2 linked regions of the Homo sapiens genome follow. The protein of the gene in region 1 interacts with the protein of each later gene in a biochemical or structural test. Each region holds a gene or a part of one and is shown on either strand. Other genes may lie near its edges.

Region 1 (7,027 bases):
TTGAGACAGAGTCTCGCTGTGTCACCTAGGCTGGAGTGTAGTGACGCCATCTCAGCTCACTGCAACCTCCACCTCCCAGTTTCAAGCAGTTCTCCTGCCTTAGCCTCCCAAGTAGCTGGGACTACAGGTGTGCACCACCACACCAGGCTAATTTTTGTATTTTTAGTAGAGACGGGGTTTCACCATATTGGCCAGGCTGGTCTCGAACTCCTGACCTTGTGATCCGCCTGCCTCGGCCTCCCAAAATACTGGGATTACAGGCATGAGCCACTGCGCCCGGGTGCTTTTAGTTATTTTTCTTCGATTTTGGGGGGGTTTATTTTGCTGTTTTCTATAAATTAGTGATGAATGTTTGATAAGTATTATGATTTTTATCCTTTTTAGTTTTCTAATGCGTGCATCTAAAGCTCTCAGTTTGCTGTTAACTTGCCTTTTCCTTCTTCCTGTAAGTGTGAATATGTAGGATTGTTATGTTCACTTAAATGGGTTTTTCCTCGTTTGGTTTTTTAAATAGAACTTTTCTTTTTTGTTGATTGGAAAAACAATATAAAATCATCAGTTTTCCAAAGTAAGCATGCTGAAAACACAAGCATGGCATTAGGAAGGCACAGTGCCTGCGGCGCCATCACAGAGATGGCGCTGAGCAGCTGGGTGCGTTTTCTTCCAGACTTTTTCCTTTCTAAAATTTTCATTATTTTAATTGCATATAGACCATGAGTCTTACATGAAAGCAGTCTATTTGGAAATTCTTTACGTTATAGAAGGATGAATTAAAAGCAGACTGTCAACTTTTCCACCTGAAAATTTCATGAAAAAGAAAAGCACCAAAATCATATAAGCCATGTTTCAAGTACTTGTCAGACACGTCTTCATTTACCCATGAATCAGGCTGTTTATAAAGCCATAATGAGGAACTCAAAAGGTGTGAATAAAACCAGAAAGTGATAGAGGGAGACTGTGTGAAGCCTTGGGGAAACACATTTGTGTTCTTGCTAAGTGAACTTCAAACCAACAGATTTAATAAAAGTAGGAAGATGCCTAGCCAAGCATGGTAGTGCATGCTTATAGAACTAGTTACCCAGGAGGCTGAGGCAGGAGGATCGATTGACCCTGGGAGTTCAAGGCTGCAGTGAGCTATGATCATGCCACTGCACTCCAGTCTGGGCAACAGAGTGAGACCCTGTCTCAAAAAAAAAAAAAAAAAAAAAAAGCTGCCTTAATTTTGAATCTGTCAAATACTTAATTTCAAAAGGTTTTTTTTGTTTGTTTGTTTTTTGTTTTTTTTTATTACTGTGGACTGAAGACCATTTTCAGATGTTGAAGTAGGGTTTTTGTTTTGTTTTGTTTTGAGACAGGGTCTCGCTCTGTCACCCAGGCTGGAGAGCAGTGGCATAGTCATGGCTCACTGCAGCCTCGAACTCCTAGGCTCAAGTGATCCTCCTGGCTTAGCCTCCCGAGTAGCTGGGACTATAGGCTCATGCCACCACACCTGGCTAATTTTTAAATTTTTTGTAGAGATGGGGTCTGGCCATTTTGTTCGGGCTGATCTTGAACTCTGGTCTCAAGTGATTCTCCCGCCTCAGCCTCCCAAAGTGCCAGGATTATGGGTGTGAGCCACTGTGCCTGGCCAAAGAAGGGTTGTTAAGATTTTCCCAAATGTATTAGTCTTAGGTACAGCGTTCTAGTTAAAAGATAAAAAGAAGTGAATTATGTTTCACTGGTGCTATTAAATGTTCCACTTTGGTGTCTTATATGTCAGACATCCACACGGCAGGGTGGACTTGGGGTAAGTGTGTCTTGCTCTGCCTCACTTGCTGCTTTCAGAGAGATTTCTAGGCCTCACATAGCTATCATGAAGTTGGCTGTAGAAATATTTATAAACGGCAAAAGCCGTAAGAAAGCTCATGCAATTGTAAAGGTCATACTTGGTTTGTGACCTTCAATTGTTTATTCAGAAAGTAATAAAGCACACTGTCATGACAAAATTACTGTCTGGAAACAGGGAAATAATGAGCCCTGGCACCATTTTTCTGTCCCAGGAATTCCTTTGGAAGCTCTTTGTCATGTAATTATGTTCCATCAGAGTCTTCCAGGCTTTTTCTGTGAATGGTAGTTCACTGCGCCTTTGTTGTGAACAATATGGGATTTGGACTACAACCTCTTGTAACTTCTTTTTCTAGTAATATCATGCCTGCTTTCCTGAGTCTTTTTCTTCTTTCCTATTTGAATTCCATCACAGGAGGGTGTGCTGGGGTGGATGCATGTGTGTTTCGAGTCAGATGCATCCCTGTCCTCCAGGTGCTCATGGTCTGATGGGGAGTCAGATGCGGGCACAGTTCCATTGACTATGGCTTTGGAGAAGACGTTTTGGGGCAGGGCAGCTGCAGGGCACGAACGCGGGAGGGCGTAAGGTGCTGTGGGCGAGGAGGAGCAGCCCCCGGCATGTGCCAGGCAGAGGAGGCTTGGTGCCATCCCTAAGAAGGGCCGTCCCTGTTGCTGTGTCCCCCGCAGGTGATCGCCATGATCAAAGGCCTGCAGGTGCTGATGGGCAGGATGGAGAGCGTGTTCAACCACGCCATCCGGCACACCGTCTATGCCGCACTGCAGGACTTCTCCCAGGTGACCCTTAGGGAGCCGCTGCGGCAGGCCATCAAGAAGAAGAAGAACGTCATCCAGAGGTCAGCCTTCCCCACGCCCTGTGCCCGCTGTGCCCACACGTCCTCGGATGAACTTGGATTCAAACAACAGGAGCGTTAAATTCTCAAAAATGATTTCAATATATTTATCTTCAACCTTCAGATGCCCTCTTGGTGAATTACCTCTAAAAGTAATGCATGGGTCCAATTATTAACCCAAACAATGGACAGTAAGTCAGCTGCCGAGTGTCTAGGGAGTCTGAGGACCCCGGGACAAGGTGCATTTATCCCAGGCTCGCGGTGCCTGTGGTTCATGCATGGTGCCTTATGGGGGTCTCTGCACGGTGGAGCCCTGTTGGTGATGAGGCTGTGTTCCAAACCAGTCGAGAGACATGGCCAGGCTCTGGTCATGTGGGTGACTTCACATTCCTGTTGGTTACTGGGGACAGCCAGCTGCGGGCAGGCGGGGCCCAGCTCTGCTCCGTGCGGAGGCTGTGTTCTGCCCTCTCCCTGCCCACAGCATGACTCAGAGCCACCTCACTGCTGCCCTGGGCTAACAGATGCGAACTGGAGCTCAGGGCAGTCTTCTGGGGGTAGTAATACTCTCCAGAAGGCAGACTCCTTTTTAACTTTCCTGTTGAGCTGGTCCATTACCACATCCCTCCATGGCCCCCAGAGTAATTTGTATTTTCATGGGGGCTGTTCTGAGAGCCTTGTAGTTGGGTGAGGAGATGGTGTGATTGTGAGGCTGGAGGTCTCGGCCTCTGGGCCTTGCTGATCACTTGGTGGGGTGTTCAGTGTCCTGCAGGCCATCAGGAAGACCGTGTGTGACTGGGAGACGGGGCATGAGCCCTTCAATGACCCAGCCTTGCGGGGCGAGAAGGACCCCAAGAGCGGCTTCGACATAAAAGTACCACGCCGCGCCGTGGGACCCTCCAGCACTCAGGTTCTCGTCCCTTGAGCCCCGCCTGCACCCTCTCCCTGGGGGGACCCACCCTGAGCTGTGAGCGGGTGGGGCTGGTGAGGCCCGGGTTAAATGAGGTCCTCGCTGCCTGCTCAGGCAGAGAAAGTGGCGCCTGTGGTTTCTGCTGCTCCTCTGTTTCCCACCCAAGTGAGTTGGGAGCGTGAGGAGACGTGCCTTGATTGTCAGATGTGTCATGTGCACTAAAAAGGAGTCTGACTCCATTTCAACTCCCATCCCAAAAATGTGGGCACAAGTCCACGTGTCTGTATTCATTCTGTGTTTCTTGATGGGTGTTTGAATGTCTGTATAATTTTTACGTTGGGTCTGCAAATGACTGTAGATGGGGCGTGGGAAACTGTGAGGTGCTGCTTGCGTGTGTCATGGTCCTAAGCTGCCCACTGTCCTCTCTCCTGGTGTGTTCAGGCCTCCCCGAGGTGCTTCTCACGACTTTCACACCCGGTTTAATCCACACCGCTGCGTCTGTCCTCCGTCCTGGGGCTGGTCTTCTCCCTCATCTCTGCCGGAGGCTTTTAATCTCTTCTGCCACTCTTCTGGAAAGTCACCAGCAATGCACGCTGCTGGCTCTGCAGGAGGGTCAGGGGGACGGCCCTCGGCCTGTGCGTGGTGCCAGCCACCCTCCCTGCCTCCCTCTGCGTGCGTCCCGTGTCCCTGCCTGGGGTGTGTGTGTCGAGTGACTAACGTCTCTCTCCTGCCTCTCCCTCCTGTCTGTCCGTGTCTAGCTCTACCTGGTGCGCACCATGGCCGAGTCCTTGGGCTCTGCCGAGCTGCTCAGGCAGCTCAAGTCTCTGGGCATGGAGAGGCTCTTGCATGCGGTTAACACGTTTCTGAGGCAGTCGTGCACCTACCTACCCCTTTTAACCTTTGGTGGTAAGACATCATTTGTTTCTCTTGACGTTTATGGCACGGAGGCGAACTGCTCCGCTACAAGTTGTTCTTTCCCCAAAGCAGCAGCAACGTGGCCGCGTAGACAGGCACCCGGACCCCTCGGGGAGCTGGTGCGGGGCCCTCCCGACCAGGGCGTAGCGGAGCAGTCCTTCTCTCATGGGCTTTTTGAGTTTGGCATAACTAATGTACCATGTATATTTTCTCCCCCACAAATGTTTCCTTGGATAATCCAGCTTTACATGGTGAGAACCATGCTAGAGTCCCTCATTGCAGACAAAAGTGGTTCCAAGAAAACCTTGAGAAGTAGCCTTGAGGGGCCCACCATATTGGACATAGAAAAATTTCATCGAGAGTCATTCTTCTACACTCACTTGATAAATTTCAGTGGTAAGAGATACTGCTGAGCAGCATCCGGCCTGGCATGTCCTAACACCACTAACACCGTCTAGAATGCTTCCGCCCGCCTGACCACCCCCTACCCCGTCCCTTGGTGCACCCAGACGGTGACTCGTCCTGCCCTCTGTGGCGGTGGCTGTACGTCCCTGGCCTGAGCTCGCTCCACAGGGCGTGGTCCCTACAAGGGTATAAACTGAGGAGCCCGGGCTGGCCCTGAGACATGAACAGAAAATCTTTTCAACCCATGCGGGGTTGGAAACAGGCGAATGTAATCTGGTGCCTGAGTTGAGACACAGGCATTGATAAATACTAGAAATGGCCCTTGCAGACCATGACGTGGGGGGAAGGTGGCGGGTGCCCTGTGCCAGGCAAGCCCATCCTGGGTGACACCCGGCCACCTTGACCGGCCACCGGTGGGTGCGCTCTCTGCCCTCCGTGTGTCTGTCCCGTGTTCTCATCAAGTCCTCCGTTGTCCACCTCTTGCTCAGAACAGGATCCCTGCTGTCTTGGCTGGGGTGCTGCGAGGTATTGGAGGAAATAGTACCACTTTTGCTGTTAACTCCATGAAAGGATGGAGTTCGAGTGTGGGCTCTTTTAATCTGTCTCATTTTTGCGTTAGACAGACCTCCCTGAGTGTGCCTCTAATGCTGCAGCCTGGACATTGGTTTTTATCCTAAGTGAAAGTGAAGAAGTCCTGTTTTTTTGTTTTGTTTTTTGTTGAGACGAAGTCTTGCTCTGTCACCCAGGCTAGAGTACAGTGGGGCGATCTCAGCTCACTGCAAGCTCCGCCTCCCAGGTTCAAGAGATTCTCCTCCCTCAGCCTCCCAAGTAGCTGGGATTATAGGTGCTCACCACTGCGCCTGGCTAATTTTTGTATTTTTAGTAGAGATGGGGTTTTACCATGTTGGCCAGGCTGGTCTCAAACTCCTGACCTTGTGATCCACCCGCCTCGGCCTCCCAAAGTGCTAGGATTACAGGCGTGAGCCACTGTGCCCAGCCAGAAGTCCTGTTTTTATGTCTCCTTTTGAGAAGAACATTTTTAGGTAAGACACAGTGGCTCATACCTGTTAATCCTAACACTTTGGGAAGCCAAGGCAGGAGAATCACTTGAATTCGGGAGTTTGAGACCAGCCTGGGCAACATGGCGAGACCCCCATCTCTATAAAAAATACAAAATCAGTTGGTGGCACGTGCCTGTGTTCTCAGCTACTTGGGAGGCTGAGGCAGGAGGATCGCTTGAGCCCAGGAGTTGAAGGCTGCAGTAAGCTATGATCGCGCCACTCACCTCCAGCCTGGGTGACAGAGTGAGATAGACTCTGTCTCAAAAAAAAAAAAAAGACACTTTCCCCCTGGATCCCACTGAAGGGCTCACAGGGTTGATGAGGTGGCTTTACCTGCAGCTATGCCCAGCTGGTCCTGTCCCTAGTGCAAGGCCCCGGTGACCCCTCCCCACTCATGTCCATGCTGCATGGCTTGGGGCTGAGCGAGGAGGAGCAGGCACCCAGCACACAGCCCTTGTGTCATCTCTGCTAAAGGTTTTTTTTTGCTTGCGGGAGATAACATGGAGTTGTTTGAACCCTCCCAGAAACGCTGCAGCAGTGCTGTGACCTTTCGCAGCTGTGGTTCCGAGAGTTCTTCCTGGAGCTGACCATGGGCAGGAGGATCCAGTTCCCCATTGAGATGTCGATGCCCTGGATCCTGACGGACCACATCCTGGAGACCAAGGAGGCATCGATGATGGAGTGCGTGTCCTGCGGGCCTGTCTCCAGCCTTTGTGTGTGGTGACCGGGGGTCCTCAGAGGAGGTGGCGGAGAGGCCGGGACTGTTTTTAGTATTGTATTTGAAATCAAGTTTCTGGGCCTGGGCAAAATAGCAAGACCCCAGTCTCTACAAAAATGAGAAAACTTAGCCTGGTGTGGTGGCTGATGCGGGAGGATTGCTTTACCACAGAAATTTGTGGCTGCATTGAGCTATGGATTGCACCACTGCATTCCAGCCTGGCCACGTAGCAAGACCCTGTCTCCAAATAAAAAAAAAAAAAAGAGAAATCATGTTTCCTGGGGTAAAGCTTTAGAGATTAATACAAGTAACTAACCAGTTTCTTGGTGTCAGACTGGAATTGAGA
Region 2 (7,027 bases), on another chromosome or scaffold:
TGGGAAGGTAAATAATAAAATATATTTAAGTTGTCATTTGTTGACAGAGGAGTAAAACTTAAAGAGTTCTGGCAGATTGAGGTCAGTGATACTGTCATTTAAGAATGAGCCCTGGGTGAGCAGGGAATGGGGTAAGACTTCAGGAGAAGCTGACTGGATTTAGTTTTTGTGCAGCAGATATAAGGTTGCCTGGAGTGCTAACACACATTTACCTGTGATTCTGGAAGCTTCTGGTCACATTGGTACCATCTGCCTAGCACATACCAAATTCCAGGCTCCTAGAAGGAAAGCAGGTGTTCAGCGTAGCTGGTTTAGGCACATCGAGCCATTCTTATCAGTAAGGGAATGTCAACCCTCCTGAAATCCAAGTTCTTGGACTCCAGATAAGGGTCAGCAGGGCTTTCTACAGATAGCTGTCTCAGGTCTGTTATGTTGAATTTCTGCATAAAACATAACATGGGTTTTCCTTTGTGCTCATTATAGAAAATTGGGCTGTGGGGTGGAATTACCTATTTTTGTTGTTTTGTTTTTGTTTTTTGAGATGGAAGTTTCACCCTGTCGCCCAGGCTAGAGAGCAGTAGTGCAATGTTGGTTCACTGCAACCTCTGCCTCCTGGATTCAAGCAATTCTCCTGCCTCAGCCTCCTGAGTAGCTGGAGTTACAGGCACCTGCCATCATGCTCGGCTAATTTTTGTATTTTTAATAGAGACAGGGTTTCACCATGTTGGCCAGGCTGGTCTCGAACTCTTGACCTCAGGTAATCCCACCCGCCTTGGCCTCCCATAGTGCTGGGATTACAGGCGTGAGCCACTGTGCCTGGCCCTAAGTTATTTTATTTTATTTTATTTTTTATTTTTTTATTTTTGAGATGGAGTCTCGTGCTGTCACCCAGCCTGGAGTGCAGTGGTGCGATCTTTGGTTCACTGCAACCTCCGCCTCCCGGGTTCAAGTGATTCTCCTTCCTCAGCCTCCCAAGTAGCTGGGATTACAGGCGCCTGCCATCACGTCTAGCTAAATTTTTGTATTTTTAGTAGAGACAGGGTTTTACCATGTTGGCCAGGTTGGTCTCAAACTCCTGACCTCAGGTGATCTGCTCACTTCAGCCTCCCAAAGTGCTGGGATTACAGGTGTGAGCCACCGCGCCCAGCTATTTTTTATTTTTGAGATGGAGTCTCCCTCTGTCACCCAGGCTGGAGTGCAGTGGTATGATCTCGGCGCACTGCAGCCTCCACTTCCTGGGTTCAAGTGATTGTTTTGCCTCAGCCTCCCGAGTAGCTGGGATTACAGATGCCGGCCACCACACCTGGCTAATTTTTTTATATTTTTAGTAGAGATGGGGTTTCACCATTTTGGCCAGGCTGGTTGGTCTTGAACTCCTGACTTTAAGTGATCCACCTGCCTCTGCCTCCCAAAGTGCTGGGATTACAGGAATGAGCCACCACGCCTGGCCCTACGTTATTTTTAAATAGCTTTAAAGATAAAATATGGTTCCATTCTTGTTTTTAATAATAACTGACAGATTTTATGATACCATTGATTTTTGCTTCCGCTGCAGGTTTATTATTATAATGCTCGGACACGTGAATCTGCATGGACCAAGCCAGATGGAGTTAAGGTTATTCAGCAATCAGAACTGACACCTATGCTTGCAGCCCAGGCACAGGTTCAGGCTCAGGCCCAGGCGCAGGCTCAGGCCCAGGCGCAGGCTCAGGCCCAGGCACAAGCTCAGGCCCAGGCTCAGGCTCAGGCCCAGGCCCAGGCCCAGGCCCAGGCCCAGGCCCAAGCCCAAGCCCAGGCCCAGGCTCAGGCTCAGGCACAAGCTCAGGCCCAGGCCCAGGCTCAGGTCCAGGCCCAGGTCCAGGCACAAGTGCAAGCACAAGCAGTTGGAGCTTCCACCCCTACGACCAGTAGCCCAGCACCTGCAGTATCCACTTCAACATCATCATCCACCCCTTCCTCTACCACTTCTACCACAACAACTGCTACTTCAGTTGCGCAGACAGTATCAAGTGAGTACCACTCAGCATGTGTTTTTATATAGGGGCTAGAGACATGAACAAGTAGGGGACTACATTTCATATTGATCCCAGTGTTTCTGGTATTATCCTTTAATACCAGAATTATTTAAAATACATTTTTGACACTAAAACTTTTGGGTTAGAGGAAAACAGGAATTTATATTAACAGGAGAAATTATTTGCCCAGTTGCAGTTTATGAAGCTAAATTGAGAAAGTGCAAAGTTAGCTGTTCCACTTGGCCAACAGTAATGCCGGGCATTGTGGGTTTGCAAAATAAGTGTAAGTCTTGGTCCCTACCTTACAGTTTCCAGTATTCCTAATCGAGGAGGCAAGAATAACACGTGTTAAACAATTAGATATTGGTGTGCAAAACTATACAGTGAGAAAGATGTAAGAATTTGAGAAGTGGATAAATGAGTGGGTGGACTACATGGGTATTTATCATGAAGGAAACGGAGTAGGGTTTAAGCAGGTTCACAGGTAAGGAAAGGATTTTCAGGTAGGAGAAGCAACATGAATAAAGGTCAGGAAAATGATAAATGTAGTTTATGGGTTTTTAGGAAACTTCTGAGGTGAGAGGGTGTTTTTTTTGAAGGGTCTTAAGAACTAGGCAAATAGGTGAGACAGGCACTGGGGGCCTGTATAAATGCAGTATTTTGGAGGATTTTTTTTGGTGTTGGTTTTTTGGGTGGTGATGAAATAAGGGAGGTTTATTAGGAGCTTCTCAGTAATCTCTTTTAGAATAGTTTCTAGACTGGGATGCGAGTAGGTGAATTGAGGAGTTGCCATAGAAGGGAGCAGTCAGAAAGGCAGGAGAATTTTCAGGTGTAAACTCACAGAGGCCCAAAGAGTAGATCTTTTCTGAAAAGGTGAGAGTCGATTAATAGCAGATTTCAGAGATTAAGAGAGGGACACAGCTATTAATTTGCTTAAAAGATTGTTATTAATGTGACAATATTGCTTTCTTTTTGGGGGGTTTCTTTCTTTTTTTCTTTTTTCTTTTTTTTTTTGTATCAATATATGGATGTTGCTCCTTACTCTGCAGGTTGAGACTAAGCCCGAAAGTACTTAAATAATGATTTTTTTATTTGATTATTTGTTATGGCACTTGTCTCAAGATACACAGCTGTCCCTACAGTGTGATTATAATTTGTATTATTTTACTACCAGGATAATTGATAAGAATAAAGAAAAAATGTGGGGTTTTTTTGTGATTACTTCAGGGACTTGGGAATTATTAGTGTGTAAGAAATACGTATAAGAGAGAAATTAATTCACATTGGCTTCAAATTTGAATTTATTTTATTGATAAAAAGCAACTGAAGCAGTCAAGTAAGGTACATATAATATGGGGATAGCCTTTAAAGATCCTCTTAATGGTTTTTAGACATTTTGTAGCGGGGGAATGTACTGAACAGGAAAATATGAATAGTGTTTTACAAATCTGTTTGCTTTTGTAGTGAAGGTGAATTTTGATATGAAAGTATAACAGTCATACTAGCTAGTCTGTTAAGGGTTGTTACCTTTTTATAGGTTTAGTGCTTCCCAAACCTCTGTGGCAAGGCAGGAGACTACCAGTTTTTATGGGAGACCTGTGGTAGTAATGGGAGAAGGGGATTAATAAAAGCAATGTAGTTTTATGTGGAGGCTCTGTGTTGCTTACATTTTCTTTCCTGCGTTCTTAGAAAGGAGAAATAGTAGTGCTTCGTTTTGTTTTAGGAAAGGTGATGAGCTAGATAATTTAACCATACTATATATAGTCCATGTCTGTTTTCAGAGTAGTGTGTCAGTAAGCTCATAGCTGTCTTGTGTCCTGTTTGTCAGTTTTGCTTTACTCTTCAGTGATTGGGAGGACTTTATTCCCAGAAATATAATATAGCAAAATCATATTCTTTTTACTGCTTTTAAACATCAATTTTGATGTTGTCTACGTATTCCAGTGTGTGTTTTTATTTTACTTGATTTAGTATCATAAAGTGTTGTCTTACTGCAATCTTAATATTTCTCCATCTATTATATATAGTCACTTGTCTTTTTTAGTTAAGATCTGAGGCTGGGTTAGTATATTTTGAGGCCTAGTGCTTCACTAGCTACTTTAGCAAATGAAGTTAGTGGGAATTTACCCACTGAAGTCTTAGATACCATTCTCCCAGTTTCCCATTATTTTATTGCTTTTGTTCTTTTCCTGTCGTGACTCATGGCTGCTAATCAAATTCAGAAAATGCTGTGCTGGAAAGTAAGAGGAATGGGTTGTAAATATTTTTTGTCATCTCCATTGGTGTTCTTTTCCACTTGAAATTTGATGCCCTTATTTATTTTCCTGACTATAGTACTTTGGATCACAATTTTAGCAATTATCTGAATACTATAATAATATTTAAATTTTAATTTTCTGAGCTACAGTATAGATCTGTGGGGTAAATGGGACTAAAAATTAAGAATATATTTTAATCCCAGTTGAGCATAAACTCATTTTGTGCAAGTTTGTGAAAAATGATGAAGAAATCCTACTTCTCAGGGAAGTTGGGAACAATGACCAGATACATTTTCAGCCAGTATAGTAGATTACAAATGCTAAATGGTATATGTATGGGACTGGGCAAATGTTGCATGTACTTTGTATTTTTCACACTGTTATAAAATTATATTAATATGATACTGTACCCTAAGGCTAGGTCTATGCTAGACCAACAATTCATTCCTGGGCCCCTGAAGATACTTGTTTGGCCCTGCTGTCTATTTAGCCAAGGTGAGTCCCTCATTAACAAGTACGAAATTGCTCACATCTTCCCAGCCTAAGTGAGTTTTTCATTATTAGAAGCTAGAAAAAGATACTGACAGATTTTGTTGTCAGTTGGATTATTGGGTGATTTGTATTAAATAGTGTGCTTTTGTTTAGAACAAAGTTGGCATAAAGATTGGGAAAGCACTGTTTTCATTTTATTTCATTTGACAAATTCATTCTTAGTCCGATACAGGTAGACATTTTTTTCTTTACATCAAAAAAAGATGAAGTATTTGTTACCAATGAATTACCAAAATGAATTTTATTTTGGAACTAGATGGGTTATGAATAAATAACAAAATTGTTTTGTAACATGTGAGAATTGAAACTGAAAAGTATGAAATAAGGATTTTAGTTTTTAGTTTGATTTTAAATGCAATTACTAGGAATGGGATGTTTTATTTTCGATATTTAAAAATAATGTGTTAGCAGAACCCAAATGATCCTGAATTTCACATTTTCCTGGTCTCTCACAATGGAAACCTCAGTTTAAAAAAATTTTATTTTTTTAAAATAATGAGAGAAACCTGAGTTGTTTTTGATTCCATTCATTCATATCCAGTTAGTCATTAGTTATTTGCTTATCTTTTTCTGTTCTTTTCTTCCTATGCATCTGTGAGGTTAATTCATCAAATGAAACCTGTTTATTACTCTTCCATACAGGAACCTTTAGTTTGCTATATACCCATTTACCTTCATGAAATCACATAAATAATGTGAATGCATTCTTATAAAAAGTTCAAAGTCTAACAAAACGTATATATTAATAGTAAAATGTGAAAGAGGCATTCACAGAGGGTAACTACCATTAATGTATTTTGTCTTGTATTCTACTAGATAATTTTCTCTATATTTACCTAAGTTCTGCCCTTTTCCTATCCATTTAAGGGCATACTCCTTAGCCTTTTGTTCAAGGCTTTCTAATTTCTGCTTCTGGCCTACCTTTCCAGCCACACAACTCACTAGTTTTGTTGGTATGCCTACTGTTTCACTCATTAATTGCTTGCCTTCAATTTTCTAAACAATTCCTTTTGGTTCTTTACTCTTTGCCTTATTCATACTTTTCTCACTGGTTTATTTTTTTCTTCTACCCCTTCCTGCTGTTTTTCTTGTTGAAATCTTAATTTTTCAAGGCGCAGCATCCCAATATAAACTTTTCTATACCCTCTCACAGTTAGAAATGTTCTTTGGGTCTTGATTTTTACTCCTATATGTTTATCCCATTTTACTTTGTATTCATTTTTGTATTTCATTTAAGTATTTTCAAGCTTCTTGAAGATAAGACCTTTTGACAAATTTCTTGCAGTGCATAGAATGGTCCCTTAAATACTTAAATTACTGAATGTGTAAATGATGAATGAATATAGTAAAATGATTTATGAAGGAGTGATACATGTTTTTGTTTTATCTTTTATCAGCACCCACAACACAAGATCAGACCCCAAGTTCTGCTGTTTCAGTTGCCACGCCTACAGTTAGTGTTTCAACTCCTGCTCCTACAGCCACACCTGTGCAAACCGTTCCCCAGCCGCACCCTCAGACGTTACCTCCTGCTGTTCCTCATTCAGTACCTCAGCCAACAACAGCAATACCTGCTTTTCCACCAGTAATGGTACCTCCGTTTCGTGTTCCCCTTCCTGGCATGCCAATTCCACTTCCAGGTAAACCAACAGATTATAATGGTCTTTCCAGCTATGTTTTCATATTGTCAGTTAGTTTGTTCTCATGTGTCTGTTGCGTTTGAAATTTGCCTTGAATCTCACCTGTTTGAAACGTTTTTGAAAGATTCATGGCTAACTGCAATATTTTCTCTTAAGTTTTGGTAAATGTCCTTTTTTTGTTGTTGTTTACATGTCCTAAAATTAGAGCCACATTTAAAGCTACACTTATTTTGGATAATGCCCTCAATGAGTTAAAAATGATTATCTTTTCATGTAAATAATGTTCTAAATGCAATATTTTTGAAGGGTTGAGTTTATGAAGTTGAGAAATCACGTCACAATAGCTAACACAAGTTGGATGATTTATATACAGTGCACTGTTGTAAGCATGTTACATGCATTAACTCCTTTAATTTTTACAACCCATGTTACGAGATAGGTACACAGACAGGTTAAATTACTTGCCCAAGGTCACATAGCTAATAAGTGATGATGTTGAGATTTGAGCCTGTGCCCTCCACATCCAGATAGTAAGCTTTTAATAACTATGTTAATACTGGGA

Evidence for each region. The genes of interacting proteins can lie anywhere in the genome.
Region 2: the proteins of CYFIP1 (region 1) and TCERG1 form a complex in vitro, tested with the Homo sapiens proteins (one study listed by BioGRID).

The regions. Positions count from the first base shown.
Region 1 is NC_000015.10:22,914,343-22,921,369, reverse strand, and holds part of CYFIP1 (cytoplasmic FMR1-interacting protein 1), read left to right. Parts: intron 1-2,511; coding exon 2,512-2,678; intron 2,679-3,434; coding exon 3,435-3,582; intron 3,583-4,056; exon of another isoform or gene 4,057-4,358; coding exon of another isoform or gene 4,359-4,739; coding exon 4,740-4,893; intron 4,894-6,487; coding exon 6,488-6,644; intron 6,645-7,027. UniProt on the Homo sapiens protein: Component of the CYFIP1-EIF4E-FMR1 complex which binds to the mRNA cap and mediates translational repression. In the CYFIP1-EIF4E-FMR1 complex this subunit is an adapter between EIF4E and FMR1.
Region 2 is NC_000005.10:146,457,329-146,464,355, forward strand, and holds part of TCERG1 (transcription elongation regulator 1), read left to right. Parts: coding exon 1-7; intron 8-1,555; coding exon 1,556-2,009; intron 2,010-4,689; exon of another isoform or gene 4,690-4,768; intron 4,769-6,222; coding exon 6,223-6,465; intron 6,466-7,027. UniProt on the Homo sapiens protein: Transcription factor that binds RNA polymerase II and inhibits the elongation of transcripts from target promoters. Regulates transcription elongation in a TATA box-dependent manner.